Linked DNA regions of Homo sapiens: regions 1, 3 and 4 are each linked to region 2. The links come from fine-mapping of genetic effects on gene expression. A gene starts in region 2. Each other region holds a variant in brackets. All regions are shown on one strand. Distances are between the middles of the regions. Region 1 overlaps SLC1A2 (solute carrier family 1 member 2). Region 2 holds the start of SLC1A2 (solute carrier family 1 member 2). Region 3 has its middle 14 kb from the start of PAMR1. Region 4 overlaps CD44 (CD44 molecule (IN blood group)).

What was found. PIP is the estimated chance that this variant, and not a neighbour inherited with it, causes the effect.
Region 1: its variant is fine-mapped to the expression of SLC1A2 in left ventricle (GTEx, PIP above 0.99).
Region 3: its variant is fine-mapped to the expression of SLC1A2 in fibroblasts (GTEx, PIP 0.97).
Region 4: its variant is fine-mapped to the expression of SLC1A2 in sun-exposed skin (GTEx, PIP above 0.99).

The regions. Positions count from the first base shown.
Region 1 is chr11:35,378,347-35,382,346 of GRCh38, reverse strand. The region is part of intron 1 of SLC1A2 (solute carrier family 1 member 2); the gene reads left to right. Among named protein-coding and RNA genes, the nearest start is that of SLC1A2-AS2, 39 kb to the left of the region's middle. The variant G/A (reference allele first, on the strand shown) is at 1,809.
Region 2 is chr11:35,417,254-35,421,454 of GRCh38, reverse strand. It overlaps SLC1A2 (solute carrier family 1 member 2), which reads left to right and starts at 1,897. Exons shown (of 11, transcript NM_004171.4): 1 at 1,897-2,505. The coding sequence starts at 2,489. It overlaps SLC1A2-AS2 (SLC1A2 antisense RNA 2), which reads right to left and starts at 2,398. Exons shown (of 2, transcript NR_186310.1): 1 at 2,348-2,398; 2 at 453-919. RefSeq lists an enhancer at 1,751-2,251.
Region 3 is chr11:35,537,553-35,541,772 of GRCh38, reverse strand. No RefSeq gene overlaps it. Among named protein-coding and RNA genes, the nearest start is that of PAMR1, 14 kb to the right of the region's middle. The variant A/G (reference allele first, on the strand shown) is at 1,736.
Region 4 is chr11:35,221,027-35,225,246 of GRCh38, reverse strand. CD44 (CD44 molecule (IN blood group)) reads right to left here. Exons shown (of 18, transcript NM_000610.4): 17 at 3,515-3,593. Among named protein-coding and RNA genes, the nearest start is that of CD44-AS1, 8.1 kb to the right of the region's middle. The variant T/C (reference allele first, on the strand shown) is at 1,629.

The sequences.
Region 1 (4,000 bases), 39 kb after region 2:
AATCAAACACAAGAGGATCAGGAAGAAACAAAATAGGTTTAACAGAATCTCTGTAATAGTGAAAATATCGACAGGTTGACAAGGACCACAGGGAAAGCACAGTATGAAACAAATGGTAAGTAAAGGTCCAACAAGTGGTGGGTGATTCAGTGAAGAGACAGCAATGCAGAGTGGTTACCACGGGCCTTGTAGGAACATGGAGCTGAGTTTGATTTCATTTCTTAGTTTCTGTGTCATCTTGCACAAGTTGTTCCATTTTTCTAAGCCTCAGTATCTTCATCTGTAAAATGGGCATGTTATCATACCTGCTTCATAAGGTTGTTGTGGGAATCTAACCAATCATGTAAGTACAGATACAGTTACTGTTTGTTGGCTTTGTGCAGGGTACTGTATTTTTACAATTTCATCATCATTTTCTTCATTGTCACTTCACTCAGTGGAAGGGGACTATGTGATAAGAGATCAGTACTCATTGTTGCAGAACATGAAATCATCATAGTTGTGTGTTTCTGGGAAAGACAATAAATTAAAAGGTGCAATATGACACTTACAAGAAATACGTACTCCCCTTTGTTTTCCTGAAGTACAAAGTAGGATCAGGTTGGAATTTCCCGCCTGTCTTCTGAGGCAAACAAGAGCAGTTTGGGGGCCTCGCTGAGGGGGCTGGTGTCCTCTGAACCAGCAGGGTAGGCATGAGTGGACAGGCTGTGGCTTGTACTTCAGTGTCCCTCTGATGTTTTTAAAAATTGACAGCTATTGAAGATTTTTCGGGCTGTTCTTGGTGGGACTCAAACTCAAAGAGAAAGAAGGGGTGATCTTTATGGGTAAGGTAACTGGGATGTCTAGGGATTCAGCAGGCTTTGGATACAGCAGACAGAGGGCTGAAAGGCTATCTAGACTTTGCTACTCTCCCCATCTTTTGGTTGGGTTTTCTTCTGGGTTGTTGTCCTTTCAGGCAATGATGGGTTTGGCAGCTCAAGACTTACAGCATCCTCAGAGAAAATGATTTCAGCAATGGAAAGTGCCTCTTTTCTGATACTTCTAGGAAGAGGCCCAGAGAAGAGTCTCATTGGCTGGGCTTCAGCCACACCCATTCTTGGGCTGACCACTGTAGGAAAGGATTGCTCTGATTGCCCAGTCTGGATCACCGTGTGATGACAATCACACGATGGGATGACATGGAAAAGGTGGCTGCCCAAAAAGCTGCCCGAATGATGAAAATAAGAGAAAAGAAACAAAGGGATGAAAGGAGGAAAATATATGTGGCTACTGCAAACTCTTAAAAAAATCTCATAATTGAGTAACTTATACCTGAGCTCTGTAATACTTCACTCCAACTTAGTTTGTCAAGGAGTTTTCTTTTCTTTTCCTTCTCTTTTCTTCTACCTCCATCCCCACTACGTGTAATTTTGTCAGATGTTGTCTTCTATTGCCTGAAACTTTAGCAGTCACTGTGAATCCTGTTTCTTTAAGCCCAGGGTGTCATTGGGAGCATAACAGTCATCCAGTGCAGCTCAGCTTCTCCCTACAGATTCTAAAAATACCCAGAGGCACTCAAAACAAACAGCGAAGCACTGAGGCACTGCCCGTGCAGACACCCACACACTCCCCTCTTTAAACTGCCTTAGCGCTGTCACTATAGGGAGAATCAGCAACTCACGCAGCCCTTTTATTTATTTATTTTGTTTTTATTTATATACCTCTTTATGCAGAAGAGATGAGGGGTTCCTGATGGAACAGAATTGATTGGAAGAAAGGGAAAGAGGGAGACAAACAGCAAAAGTGTTTGCACTGTCTTTTTGCAGCTC[G/A]CTGTAGACCTGAACTAAGATGTATCGAGAGATCAGACCAATCCAGGGAGTCGCACAGATTAGCTGGGATTTAAAATAAAACTCTTTAACAAGAGATCACCTAGAATAACTCGCACATATGCATCCATGAAGAGGCCCAAGGACCACATTTGGAGAAGGTTAGTGCTCACAATGACCAGGGCTACAACCTGGCTTATTTTTCAGAAGCAAAGCAAAAGCCAAGGCCTTTTCCATGGAATCTTTAGGTGGAGTCGAACCACCCAGAGCATCAGGGTGTTCTTATGTCAAGGAGGTGTTTCATTTCACAGGACTGCAGAGCTGAGGGTATTGGCATTGCATGCTGTGCATCTACAGTTTGGGAACTTGCTTAATGTTGATTGTCTTATCAAACCAGTGAGCTCTTGGGTTTTTCAAAAGCAGGCTGAGGGATTAAATGATAAAATCAGATGGATTATGAAAATATGAGAATCATGGGAATTATAACAGGTATGACCTTTTATAGATTGCCTGGGACAATCAGGTGTCTGCTTAACATAATGAACCTGACCCGGTATCAGCGTGCAAGTAAAGTCTTTGCAGTCGGTGGTTAAATGGAGTTTATTAAATATTGTTAGTGATAATCATGGAAAGGAGAATTTAAAATGGCCATAGCTTCTAACCAACTCTGGGGATGTCTGGATGACATTTGTTTTGGCTGTTGGGATTCGCCACGTAAGTAATTGATTGCCCAGAAGTTGTTCTCAGATCAAGCTTTCAATTGGCCGGTTTATGGCAGGATCCTGGGATTTAAATTAAAAAGTGAAGCCTTAAGGATAAGCATAAGTAAGTTCTTGGGACAGAATGTGCTTAGCATTGTTTCCATCCATAAGTGAGTGGAGGAAGCCTGCGTGCCCCGGACATATGCTTTTCACTGGGAAAGGCGATCAAATGTCTCTCTTCCTCTCTCCCTAGACTGATTCTCATGGAGAGTCCTTGGCATGTTCTCAAGCCTGAAGCAAAGGCTTCTAAGCTCCCAAATTGCTAGGTGATCTCTCCCGAGGAATATGTCCGAGGCACAGGTGCCATGTTCTTTGTGGGTGGGAGTTTGCTTACCCAGGATTTTATGTCTGGCTTAAAAAAAAGTCTGTATTGCCTATTGAAATTGCATTGTCTAAATGTGGCAAAGGATTTGCAATAGTTTTGTGAATCAGGGCAGTCTAAAAATTTTATTAGTAATAACAGTAGCAGCAGCAATAACAAAGGCTGGCATTTACATAGACTTCCTATGTGCCGGGCACTGCCCTCTGTGTCACAATTTTTCTTTTTTTTTGAGACAGAGTTTTGCTCTTGTTGCCCAGGCTAGAGTGCAATGGCATGATCTCGTCTCACTGCAACCTCCACCTCCCAGCTTCAAGCGATACTCCTGCCTTAGCCTCCTGAGTAGCTGGGATTACAGTCATGTCACCACCACGCCTGGCTACTTTTGTATTTTTAGTAGACATGGGGTTTCTCCATGTTGGCCAGGCTGGTCTCGAACTCCTGACCTCAGGTGATCCATCCCCCTCGGCCTCCCAAAGTGCTGGGATTACAGGCATGAGTCACTGCGCCTGGCCATGTGTCACAAATTTTAATGCATTTAATTCACAGACAATGGAGCTTCAGACTTACCCCTCCATCTTCTCCTTCCCCTTCCATGAGCTACATTTAGCCGCATTGGCTATGCATCCTTGCCAATCTGGCCAGGTATTGCCAACTTTAACTGCATCCTTATAGACAACTATTCATAGAGCTTAACTGAAGAGAACCACGGGTTATATATTAGTCTGGAGACACTCTTGCCTGTCACACTCTTGTTGCTTTTGTGAGCAGTAAGTTCAAGGCACAAGACTTATCAATCCAATTGAGAGCTTCAGTTACAGGCAGACTTATTTTTTCACCCTGTCCTTCTTGTCTCCAATGCATTGGAAAGGTTCTTAATCTTATACTAGGTGGTTCTTAGTTTTCATGAAAATTTTCAGTTATTCCTAAAGACACAAATTGCTGATGTGAATAAGGGTGAGCGCTTTCAGAGATAAAGATGCTAACAAATCAGTGCAGGTTTGTGACAATTTTAAACTGCTTCAGACCAGCTAGCATCAATATTTTTTCTTGGTATTTCTTCTGTTTTTGATGAACGATGTCTACTATGCAGCCACAAGCTAATACTGCTGTCT
Region 2 (4,201 bases):
CTAACTTGTAAAGTTAGACAATTAGACTGTAAAGTTTGTATATGTGACAACTTCAGATACAAAGACACACACTTACCCTTGACGGGGCTTAAGAGGAGAGTGTCAAACATAATACCAAAGTGAAAGAAGATAGCTCTTCATCTACAAATTATTTTTAAACACATTTACCAGGTTAAACAATAACTAATTTTTCGGAAGAGAAGAGTACCCAAAGTCAAATGCCCTAAGACGAAGAGATGCTTATGGCATTTTTTTTTAAATAAAGAAAATGCAAAGTTAGAGTGGTTCTGAAGGAACCTAGGATGAATAAGGTACAGACATGATTATTCTAATGGTGCAGACAGGATTGAGAGAGAAGGGGGGAGGGGAGAGATGGAGAAAGGCATGGATGGAAGATGACGTTTGGATTCAGATTTTGGAAAGGAGAGTAAAGGAAGGAGGTAAGCAGAGATTTATTTTTTAAATTTTATTAATGTGTTTTCCCCTCTTTTTCTTGTTATTTTTCTCATCTGTCTGTTCATACTTGGATATTTTGTCCAATAAACTATCTTCTAAGGACTCTGAAAATGCACTGAATATTTTTGGAGGGTTTACTGGGTGCCAGACGCCACTTTAGGAGTTTTACATATCCTCTCCATTTCATTTAGTTCTCTTAGCACAGAGAAGTGGGAGAAGATAGTCCCATTTTACAGGTGGGATGAAGAGAGAGATGGAGGAATTTGCCCCAGGTTACTCAGCTAGAAGGTGGTGAAGAACTCAAGCCTTCGGATATCAGCGCCTGGCATTTAACTACCAATCGGTCCTGCTGGGACTCCGGCTCCTCTGGCACCATCCCCGGGACCTACTCAGAGAGTTTGCACGTGGCCGGTCGCGTTCCATCGTCTAACAAGGTCCAGCACAGCGCAAATCCGAAGATCGTCTACCCCGGGGAAAAAGAGAGTCTGTTTAATTCTCCTGTGGCCCTCCAAGTGAGTTCTTTTGGGTTCCATTGCCTAGACGAGGAAAGTGAGGCTTTGCCTGCTCTGCGCTCACAGGGTCGGCAAGTAGTGGGACCCTAGGTTCCTGCAGTATTCCAGAGATAATCAAAGCTGCACAGGTCTCGTCATTTTTATGCAAAGGCGTCCGGAAGGCTCGAACTCTCCCTTGCACAAGCCCATCTGTCTCTGTGCGCCGCCCCCGGGACACGGAAGCAGGCGGCGAGCAGCGCCGAGTGGGTGGAGAACCGTCCCCCGCCACTCACCCCTCGGCCAACTCTCCGCGCCTTCTCAGCCGGCACCCACGAGGCCGACCTCTCTCGGCCTAAAAAAAAAAAAAAAAAATCCCGGCCTCCCCTGCACCCCGCCCGCCGCCCCCAGGGAGCTGCATTAATATTAATCTCGCTGAATAATTGAAGGCCAGAGATTTATTCGAGCTTCGGCGGGGGAGGGAGCGCAGCTGGGCCGCGTTTAGGCTGCACCACCCGCGTGTTTCAGCCGCTCGACTCCGCTGGACCTGGGACCCCCAGACGTGGGAGGATGGGGTGGGTGTGCCTGCCTGTGAGTTTGGGGGTGAGTGTGAGCTGAAGCGGGTGCTCCGGGGAGTGAGGAGGGAGCGCCAGGGGCTGCTCCAGGGAGGCGGAGACGGAGGGGCATCCCGGGTCTCCGCGCGGTCGCCTGCGCTTCACCCCGCACGGGGTGACCTGGGGCCACGCGGGCTTCAGGGGAAACAATAGCTACTCCTTAGATCCTGGGCTCCTGCCACCGGCTGCCCAAGCCTTCCCGGACGAGCGGCGGGGCCTCTTTTCTTATTTGGCTAATTTATGGCGAGAGGCTGGGGGGAGGGATGGCAGAGGAGGGACCGCGACTGGAGATGGGGGCGGGGGGCGGCGGTTAAAGGAGTTGCCCGAGGCGGCGGCGCGGGTGATGTCAGCTCTCGACGAAAATAGAGAGGGATCGCCTGCAAATCCCCAGCTCCGGCGGGGCTAAACCTTGCAATCCCTCCCTGGCCGGCGCCGAGCCAGAGCGCAGCGGCCTCCACCGCCTCCCCAGGCGCGCACACACCCGCACACGCGCACGCACGCTCACCGTCCTCTGCCACCACTCTCTGCTCCCGCCACTCGCCGCGCCCGCGAGCCCCGCAGCAAAGCACAGGTGGCAGCGGCTGCAGGGGCGCATCGCCGGCGTGCGCCCTCCTGCAGCCCTGGGCGCATCGCTCTCTCGGGGAAGCCACCCTCGGAGCCCCCGGAGCTCCCCGCCAAGCGCCATCCCCGCGGGCGGAGGGGAGCGCGGGTCGCGCGCCGTGGAGAGCCGGGACGCGGATTAGCGCCCGCAGGAGCCTCCTGCGCCCGTTGAGGCGCTAAAGGGCTTACCCCGGAGGCGGGTGGAAGGGCGGGCAGAGGCTCCTCTTAAATACCGCTCCCGGCCGCACTTCGCGCTCACCCCGGCGTCCGCTTTCTCCCTCGCCCACAGCTGCCGGATAGTGCTGAAGAGGAGGGGGCGTTCCCCAGACCATGGCATCTACGGAAGGGTGAGGGGATTTTTATCTGTACCCGCGGGAAAGCGGGGTCACGCGCGGGGTGGTGGCGCCCCTATCCGGGATGCGGATAGAGAGGCGGCGGCGGCGGGCCTCGGAGGTGGTGGCGGAGCCGTAGCTTGGCTGGGGATGGGATGGTGGGGAGGGGATTGATTTTCTTTCCTGGAGATTGCTGCTTAATCCTTTGAAAATGCGAGAGGTGGAGGGTTGTTTTATTTTGATAAAAAGGGTAAGGTGCGCTGGGGGCCTGAGAGTGTGAGGAAGAAATCCTCTTGAGGTTACTTTTGGGATTTCAAAACAATAGGGGATTGGGCATAGTGTGAGCAGACACCGGGGTAGCAGCGCCTGGAGCGCGGCGCCCCAGGCCCGAGGCGGGCTTGCAGGTGGTGCCGGCTCGGAAGGAATGAGCCAAGACAGGGCCCTGGGGCGGGGCAAGGACCAGCGCGCGCGGCCTTGAACGCCAGGTTTGCAGAGTCGCCATGGAGATGCTGGGCCCGCTCCGATCGGTCCTTGTCCCTGGAAGGCGGAATCTCCCTGGCTAGCTCTAAGGAAGGGTGGAAGAGATTTGGGTGCTTCCCGGGAGGCGGGAAAACGTGTGGTTTGGGACAAGGGCAGGAGTCGCCAGACTCCAGCGGGCAGGGATAGCATTGGCTTCCCTATTCAGCCCGAGGATCTGGAGTCGTGTCCTGCCTCCCAAGATTCCAGCTGGCATGGGGAAAGCTCCCTCGCAGTGATAACTAAAGACAATTGTCTTTAGCAAGAGACAGAAGGGGCTGCAGGGGGCAAAAGGATTCTTTGAATACTCACACATCAAAGGAAAGGTCCACAGAGTCCTTGGACCAGTATCTCCCAGAAAACTTTTTGGGCTTCGTAGAACCTGAGTGGCAATGAAAAGACTGGGCAGCTCAGCCCTTTGGTTAATTCCCAAAATTGCAGTTACTCACTTGCAAGCGATCACAAAATCCATGTTATGTGAAAAGCAAATATCAGGGGCTTCTCTGGGCTCAAGTGGTGGTGTTGGCATTTTCCAGTTTCTCCTAAGAAATTTTACCAACTCCGCAGGCTTGTTTTAGGGGAATGGATCTCTAAACAGGCTGAAGAGCTGGTATCCAAAGCCAGATCTCTAGACTGCAATCTCCAATAGAAGGAAAATATTTCTAGAACTGTCTCTCTGTCCAGGAGAAGGAATTCATTCATTTTCTGTCCCCCAGAGTCCTTCCAAAGGCATCTGGCATCTTGTCATTGCATGAAATTTTGTCTCTCCCTTTGCCCTATTTTGCAGTTTAGACTTTTTTGATTATTATTTCTCCAAAAAGATGTTTCAGGAAGACACCTGTGTACAAGGAGGGTGGTACCTTGTGCTAAAACAGATCTCTAGAAATAGATACTAGGAGCCCATATGGATCAAGATCAGTGTCTTACCATGTTTAGTTAAAAAGGCTTTTATATTAGAAAAGATATGAAAGAATTTCTGGTTGCCTTCATGGACCTTCTAGACTTATCCTTGCTTGTAAAGGCTAGGGTGGAAAACATCTGTGAAAAAGATGGATGATATTAGTCTTCCAAATCCTGCATCCAGCTCACTCCCTATTTTGATGGCCAGATAGAGAAGGAGAGGTTACAACAACAACCCCAAACTAAGTAAGTTTATTTCACCTTTGTCCTAAATGAAAGCTGTCAAATGATGTGA
Region 3 (4,220 bases), 120 kb before region 2:
AAATAAAGCAGCACTTAGCAGTGCTTTTGCCAAAAACAATGAAAGCCAAGAGCATCATCGTAGACTCTGTTACCAGAATTGGCAGGTTGATGTGTTTCCAGACATGGGAACAAAGACCCCAAATTCCAATGAGTCTGGAGAAATTTTCAATGGCCATCTTTGTAGTGTTTTGTCAGGAAATGAATGATTGGAAGGCACTTGTGTGGCTGCTGCTTGGCTTTTACCATCAACACCACATCCCACTGCCATTTATGGCCCCCACCTCCAAACTCCCAGGCCGAGTGGGGTTGAAAATTTGGAATTTGTACCCAGGAGGTAGAATGGGGCCACTTTAATAATTATCTGGTCGGGATGATTTTCTAGAGGATGCTGATGAGGGTGGTGTTGGGGAGGAACCAAGGGGATGGCAAAAGAGCAAGTGATTTCTGCTTTGCATTTAGTAGCAGTTACTTCTAGACCCAAACAACTTATTTGCAACTTTCAGAAGCATGGAAGGATGGGATTGTCATTGACTTAGTGTTTCTGTGCCTCGCATTCCTTTCTGTAAAATTGGGGCAATCCAGTGCCTAACTCAGGCTAGATGGGAGAATTACATGAGATAATGCATGCACTGTGCCTAGCACAGGGTAAGTGACCAATAAATATTAGGCTTTTGTTATTATTACACTCCCGGCTGCCTTGCAGCTTGGGTCATTCTGGGTCCCCATCCATGCCCACTCTTCTGCCCTCAGGGACTTGTGGCCTTCTTAGATTATATCTAAAATCTTTCCTGGGCTAACATTCTATTACCCAAGCCTATTCCTCTCTGTTTATAGGTGAAGAGAGAAACTGATGCCCAGAGAGGTGAAGTGACTTGTTCAAAGTCACAGTTAGCAAGTTTAATTCTGTTGCTGCTCTTACGTATTAGTTACCTATTGCTGCATAACAAATTACCCTAAGATATGGCATCTTAAAACAACTAACATGTATTATCTCACGTGGTTTCTGAGGGTCAGGGATCTGGGGGCAGCTTGGGTTTATGGTTCTCTCATCAGGTTGCGGTCAAGATGCCAGCTGGGGCTGTGGTTTCTGAAGACTTGACTGGGGCTGGATTTCATCATTTCCAAGATGACTCTGAAGGATAGCAGAAAATGCCACCCCAAAATATGCCATTTTGGCTTAAGAATTATTTTGAGCTGAAGGCAAAGGAGGAAAAGCAGATAGATACAAGAAGAGTTATCTGCCCTCCCTCTACTTGCCAGAAACACGATGTAAGTTTGTAAAGGTGCCCTCTCTCTTCTCCCTACCAGGAAGGACAGAAGTTAGTCACTAGAGACAACAGTAGACCCTTATAAGCCCAGAGAGGGCACCAGAGAAATCTTCATTAAAAACCTTACCAATGAGTCCTTCTCTTCCATTAGCCCCCACATGTATTTGCCTTTCCATAATTTGCCACCCCTAGAAGCTCAAAGTCCTTTTCCTTTGTCTTATCACTTCTCTAAAACTGTATGGTTCTTTTGTTAAGATGCAATATAAGCCCAAGTTCTAGCCACCCCTTTGTGTTACTCACTGGGTGTTCCCATGTGTATGTGTCATGCACATGTTAATGCAATTCTGCTTGTTTTTCTCTTGTTTATCTGACTTTTATCAGTCTAATTTGCAGAGCCCAGCCAACCAATGAATCTAAGATGGGTAGAGGGAAAACAGCTTTTTCTCTCCAGCAGCTTACTCAGATGGTTGTTGTCAGGAAGCTTTC[A/G]TTCCTTGCCTGGGAGCCTGTCCTCAGGGCTGCTCAGGACATGACTTCCCGCAAGGCACGTGATCCAGGAGGGAGTGCAGATGGAGGCAGCAGTGTCTTTCATAAACTAATCTCGGGAGGGATGTGCGGTCACTACTCCCATCTGTGATGGGTCACACATACCAACCCTGGTACACTGTGGGAGGGGATCATGCAAGGTTCGTGACAACCAGGAGGCCAAAATTATGAGACACCGTCTTGCAGGCTGGCGACCACCCCCCTTTAAGTTAAAGACAAAGTCCTTAACAGAGAACTGCTTAACTTATCAGCCTCCACTCATAAAATACTCCTTTTGATCTCTGGGCTTTGGTTTACACTGGCCTTTTTTCAGTTGCCACACACACCACGTTCCTGCCCAGCCTGCCTTTGCAAGTGTTGCTTCCCCCATGCCTGGAACACTAATGTATCACTCCATCTATTAATATCCCATCAATTCTTCTTCATCCTTTAACATTCAGCTCTGGCAACACTTCCTCCAGGAAGCCTTCCCTGCTCCCTTAGCCTAGGTCTGGGCTTCTGGTCATATGCATTGTCTTGGTTGAAATTGAGTCATCAATTATTGAATGGATGTCTCCCTTACAGGAGTATGTGGTCTGACTTGCGCTCTCTGGGTTACAGGCAGGGAGCACGGATCATAGAGTCATGCTTAGATTCCAGGTTTCTTCACTCAGAATCCTGGATCCAGACTCTTAATAACCACTTTTTAATCCTCATTCCTAGAGGGAGAAAAATAGCTGTTATTGTGCCTTGTCCTTATACAAGCCTCTTTTCTTTGGTTCTAAAAATAGAGTGGTAGATTTTCCAGACTAAGCATTGAGCCTATATTTTTGCCTCCAGGCCCCCTACATTGGCCACTAGAAAGCATTTTTTTAACTGTATATTATTTTATTCCCTCATCAATTTGATTATTCTTTGTCAGCCAGTACAGAATTTTAAAAATCACCAGCAATACTCTTTGTCACAGGCATTCTTTGGAGACCCAGGTCTGCTTCTAGAATACATTGGGAGGAAGAATTGGAGAAGATAATTCTTTCTTTTTACCTGGCCTTGGGGTTTGGCATACTGAGAATCGCTTGGGACAGTGGGGATGTCTCAACTTTAGCCTAAAATGGAATTCATGTCTGCAGAAGCAGTGACGGGGGGTTAGCGGAGATCAGGAGGTGATTTGCAGGACAGCTCTCCCACCCTTAACACGGAGGAACCAGGGGATGGGGAGGAGCCCTTGAAGTCAGCCATGCATTTGAGTCCAGTGGAAAGGAGGCTCCTAAAGGAAAGAATGAGAAACTGTTTACACAAGAGTCTCTGTGACTCTTGAGGGCACAAGGAGGCCCTTTTGAAGGTCTGGGTGACCCCATGTGATGCTGAGGGGAGAGGGACAATCTCCTCACTTCTGAATGGACCAGAGCGGCCTGCTGGCACTTAGAGCAGCTGTGGGAGCAGTGGTAGGTAGCACCCTTGCCGTGGACATTGGCATTCTTGTGAAGGACTGGCATCCACGGCCGCTGGGAGGCAAGCATTGCCAACTCCTGGGGGCCTTCAGATGCAGGCAACATAGGTGAGTGAGGTGGGAGAAGAGAAAAATCCAATGGTTGCAACTGGATGCATTGTGTCTAATGGTGACTTGTTGGTTTGTGAGCACCTGAGAGACACTTCCAAGGGATGCTGGGATACAGGAGACTGAGATCTCATGGGGGCGTTGATGTTCCCTAGGATCCTATGGGAGAAAGAGCAGTGAAGTGTGGGAATGGCTGTGATAGGTGACCAGTTGCTACCCACAGGTCAGAGACCTGAGAAACTCAGCTTTATGTAGAATAAACCCACTGAAGTTAGAAGCTTAGTGGACTTTAGAGATCACAGAGCTTAACACTTCACTTTACAGAGGAGGAAGCTGAGGCCCAGAGATGAAGGTTAATTTTCCCAGAGTTGATAGCTAAGATGGAGATCTGAGTTCTAGCCTTGCTTCTCTTGGTACCTCAGGGAGTTTGAGGGAACTTACATATATCACTGATATTTTCTTGAGGCCACTGAGACTTGGAAGTGTGCATTGATGCTGATGCCAGCAAGTTGTCACCAGACTGGGTGACTCTATGTGGTGTGACTGCAGGGACAGACAAAAGCCAGCCTGGGCTGGGTGTTGTGGCTCATGCCTGTAATCCCAGCACTTTGGGAAGCTGAGGCGGGTGGATCACTTGAGGTCAGGAATTCGAGACCAGCCTGGGCAACATGGTGAAACCCTGTCTCTACTAAAAATACAAAAATTAGCTGGGTGTGGTGGCATGCGCTTGTAGTCCCAGCTACTCAGGAGGCTGAGGCAGAAGAATCAATTCAGCCCAGGAGGTGGATGTTGCAGTGAGCTGAGATCAAGCCACTGCACTCCAGCATGGGCGACAGGGCCAGACTCCATCTCAAAACAAAAACAAAAACAAACAAACAAAAAACCAGCTTG
Region 4 (4,220 bases), 200 kb after region 2:
GGGATTTATTTTGCACTGTTTTAGAGCTGTGCCATCCAATATGGTAGCCACCAGCCACATTTGGCTATTTGAATTTAAACTAATTACAATGAAATGAAATTAAAAATTCACTTCCTCAGTTGAACTAGCCATAGTTCAAGTGCTCAGTTGTGGCTAGTAGTTATATATTGGACAGTGGAGGTATAGAATATTTCCATCATCACAGAAAGTTCTATTGCATAGCACTGTTCTAGACAGCAGGACGAGGTTGGGTGAGCTCAGATTGCAGGAGCTAGACTGTAGCATAAGAGAAGGAAAATATTTCTAAATTATGGCGATGCGTAGAGAAGACCTACTGATTGGAGTGTGGGTGACTGCCTGCTGGGGTTTATAGAAAAGACGATTATTCCCATTAAAGTGAAGGCTGATGAACAGCTTTTATGTACAAGCAACATAGTAAAGTTCTCATGTTTTTTTCTCCTCTTTAGACAAATAAGATAGGTTTTTGTTTGTTTGTTTGTTTGCTTGTTTGTTTGAGACAGGGTCTCACTCTGTTGCCCAGGCTGTAGTGGCACTATCATGGCTCACTGCTGCCTCCACCTCCCGGGGCTCAAGCGATTCTTCTACCTCAACCTCCCGAGCAGCTGAGACCACAGGCATGCGCCACTATGCCCGGCTAATTTTTGTGTTTTTTGTAGAGATGGGGTTTCGCCATGTTGCCCAGGCTGGTCTTGAACTCCTAGGCTCAACTAATCCACTGCCTCGGCCTCCCAAAGTGAGCCACTGCACATGGAGTGAGCCACTGCACCTGGCCCAGATAGATTCTTTAAAGGAAAATCTTCTCTGGAGCCTCACGCAGTATCTATCAACCCAACTGACTCCTAAAATAATTATGTGCTCTCATGAAAAGGGAATAAAATATGATTTCTCTTGGAGAGCTGTAACTCAAGGAGTCAGGTGACATGAGGAACAGCAAAGAAAGCTGTTTTGGATGATGGCAGGGGTGGAAAAACCTAAAGAAGTAATAGAACCCCCAACCCAGCATCTTTAAGACAACGTGACTCACAGATCACTTCATCATGCAAGCCCATGACCCATCCTTGTATGTCAACTTCAGAGACTAATGATTTTCCACTTTTGTCTTTTAACCATAATTTATATAACAGTGTCTGGCACAGGGAATGTTCTCAATAAATATTAGCCAATTCAAATTCAAGAGGCCAATACTGCCACTAAACCTCAAGATTCTTTTAGAAAAGGGGTGGTACTCTTTTTGTTTTTTACCTTCTCTTTCTCCTTGCCAGGGCTGGTAGTCACAGGAGCCACTCAAAAGATGTTTGCTGAATAAATGAACACCTATTGGAGGCCCCATTTTCAACCAAACTTTCTCTGATGAAAATAGGATTCTGTATCTCTTTCTCTTAAATGTGACACTCAAAGCAGAAAAGCCTCAGCCTTTGAAGGGGATTAGAAATGGGTTGACAGCTTTAGAATCACAGAGCCCATTAAGGGGCCCGTACAGCTGTTCACCACCTTTTAGCTGCGTGGCAAATCTGTTTTCAATTATCAAATCAGGACATAGTAATTTATGGCATCCAAGCAGCTACTTTCCTGGTGAGATACTCGCTGTGCCGGACCCTGTGTGTCCC[T/C]GTTTGCCGGTTGCCAGGGTGACTGCTGGTCTTGGGAGGAGGGAGAGGGCAGCAATGAGGCCCCTTCTCTGCTGTCTGCTGCTGACAAGACACAGACGATGGGGGAGATACCCAGCCCCAATGTATGGACTCCAGCTGCTCTTAGGGACAGCTGAGATGCTTCTCCGAGGTCTCCCTAAATGTCGACAGCATCCATGCCAGCGTTTCTATGGTGACATGTGCAAAGCTTATGGACTGTGTATGTGAGCAAAAGTGGTGCATTCTAGGGCTTGGCAATAAAGGGCTGATTGCACACAATAGGAAATTCATATTTAATTGAGCAAAAGTAATCCAAGGGAAAATGAGGAAGCTGAAGGGAGGTATAAAGACTCTTTGTAAAGGCTCCCCCAAGTCACATTATTTAAATTCAACTAAAAAAAATCTTTCCATTCAATCATAGGCGGCCTTTTAGATTTTTTCTCTCAGTTTTGTTCCTTATACAATCAGGTAGCATAACTACTTTTTAAAACTATGCCCTCAATGGTATAGATAGCAACATAGCTGTTTGACTGTAACATGGCACTTTTATTAACTTGTACCAGCGTAATTATTGTAACAGCATCATTTGATTTTCTCAGATAATTAGAGACTGTATGGGCTGCCCATGGTGTTGGAATTAGCTGTTGGTTGCTTTCCAAAAACCAGTAAGGAGTCCATAATTCTCTCTAGGTCTTCTCCCAGACTGAGGGGCATTTTTCTGCCCTGTGAGGTGATCTGGGGACACAATAAAGGTGGTCCTGCTTGGAAATAAGTTTCTTTTACCTTATGAGAAACCATCTAAAGGGACATTTACAAAAGGCTTAATATTCCTATGAATTACGTCCTGGAGAAAAATAATGTATCTTTAAAGTGTCTTGGGTAAGAAATTTAGATTTATACTTTTATAAATTTAGATTTATACCCCTGTTAAAGGTCATTTCCTCTGTTGCTAGAATTACTATTGTGTATATATAATGTATGTGTATATATATATATATATATTATATATAAAATGTAAATAACATGTAAACCTATAGGTCTTGGTTCAGGTAGGGAGAGAGTGGCCTTCAAGAATATAAAAACAGCCCATGTGTCAGTTCTAGCGAGGTGACTGTCTTCATTTAGTTGTTTTCCAAAGGAAAGTTCTTCTCTGCTTCATAGACCTCCTAACAGCAAGAAGACGATGAAACAGTGCTCTTCTTATGCTATAACCTGAATCTCTTCAACTACAGTTCCCAGAAAATAGAAAATGATATCATTACAAAAACCAAACAACAAACAAAAGCACAAGGCCAATAAAAAAACAAACGACAAACAAAAGCACAAGGCCAATACTTCCTTCTGGTAAAAGTTCTTAAAGGTTCCCTGGGCCTCAGAGAGGCTACAGGGGATGATGAATCACTGAATCTTTATACGATATTTGTGCATTGTGAATGTATTTAATAAATATTTAACAAATCAATGAATGAGTATATACTTTTGTGTGCCTTCCTGGTGAGATACTTCATAACTTTCATCAGACAGAGTCTGCATGAGGTTTAACCCTAAAAAACATGTAAAATCACAAAGGATTCAACCACTACCTAAAAGTGATGAGCCAAACAATCACAGGTGTCTCCTGTCTCTAAAAACCGGGGCAGAGAAAGATGTCTTAAGCTGCACCATGCACATGAATCCCTGGAAACTTGTTAAGATGCAGACTCTGCCATAGGAGGTCTGGGGTTGGGTCTGAGATTGTGCATTTCCAACAAACTCCCAGGGTACCCAGGCTGCTGGTTCCAGGGACTACGCTCTGAGCAGCAAGGATATAAAGCCCAGGTTTAAATGATGCCCTTTCCAAGTTGAAAGCCCCCAGGACAGCCCCTTACCTTCTTCGACTGTTGACTGCAATGCAAACTGCAAGAATCAAAGCCAAGGCCAAGAGGGATGCCAAGATGATCAGCCATTCTGGTATGAGTAAATTAAATGACATGCGTGAGCTTCAGAGACACACTTTGTAAAAACAAAAATGCACTTTATAATTGACCTAGTTGAAACAAGCACCACAGTCAGCGCTGCAGGGGGGTCTGGCCAATAGGTCCAGCCAATAGGCAGGTAATTCTGGAAGAGCAATTTGCTGAAGGTATTTGTCCAACAGCCTTCTTGCTTTAATCTTTTATCATCAGTCAGGATTTTCAAGTCCCTTCAGGAGAACTATGTTTCTAAAAAAGGACAGGATGACTTGTTGAATCTTGTAGATGCCTTTGGTATAATATTATTAAACATATAAAAGGAAATGTAGGCTTCTTTTGAAAGGAACATTTTTTTCCTGTATAAGAGCATCCACCTATCCACCTTACATTGTATTAAAAAACAAAAATGGAGGCAATAAAGGATTGGTTAAATAAATTAGGGTACATCTATTGCATTACGCACTACAATATGAGGAGGAAATATTCAATGACATGGAAGCCATGGTTAACCAGTAGGCAATGTTTGCTAAACACCGTGTAAGGTGTAATCACATTTTGGTATATATTTTACATTTTAAAATGACAGGAAAGGCCGGGTGCGGTGGCTCACGCCTGTAATCCC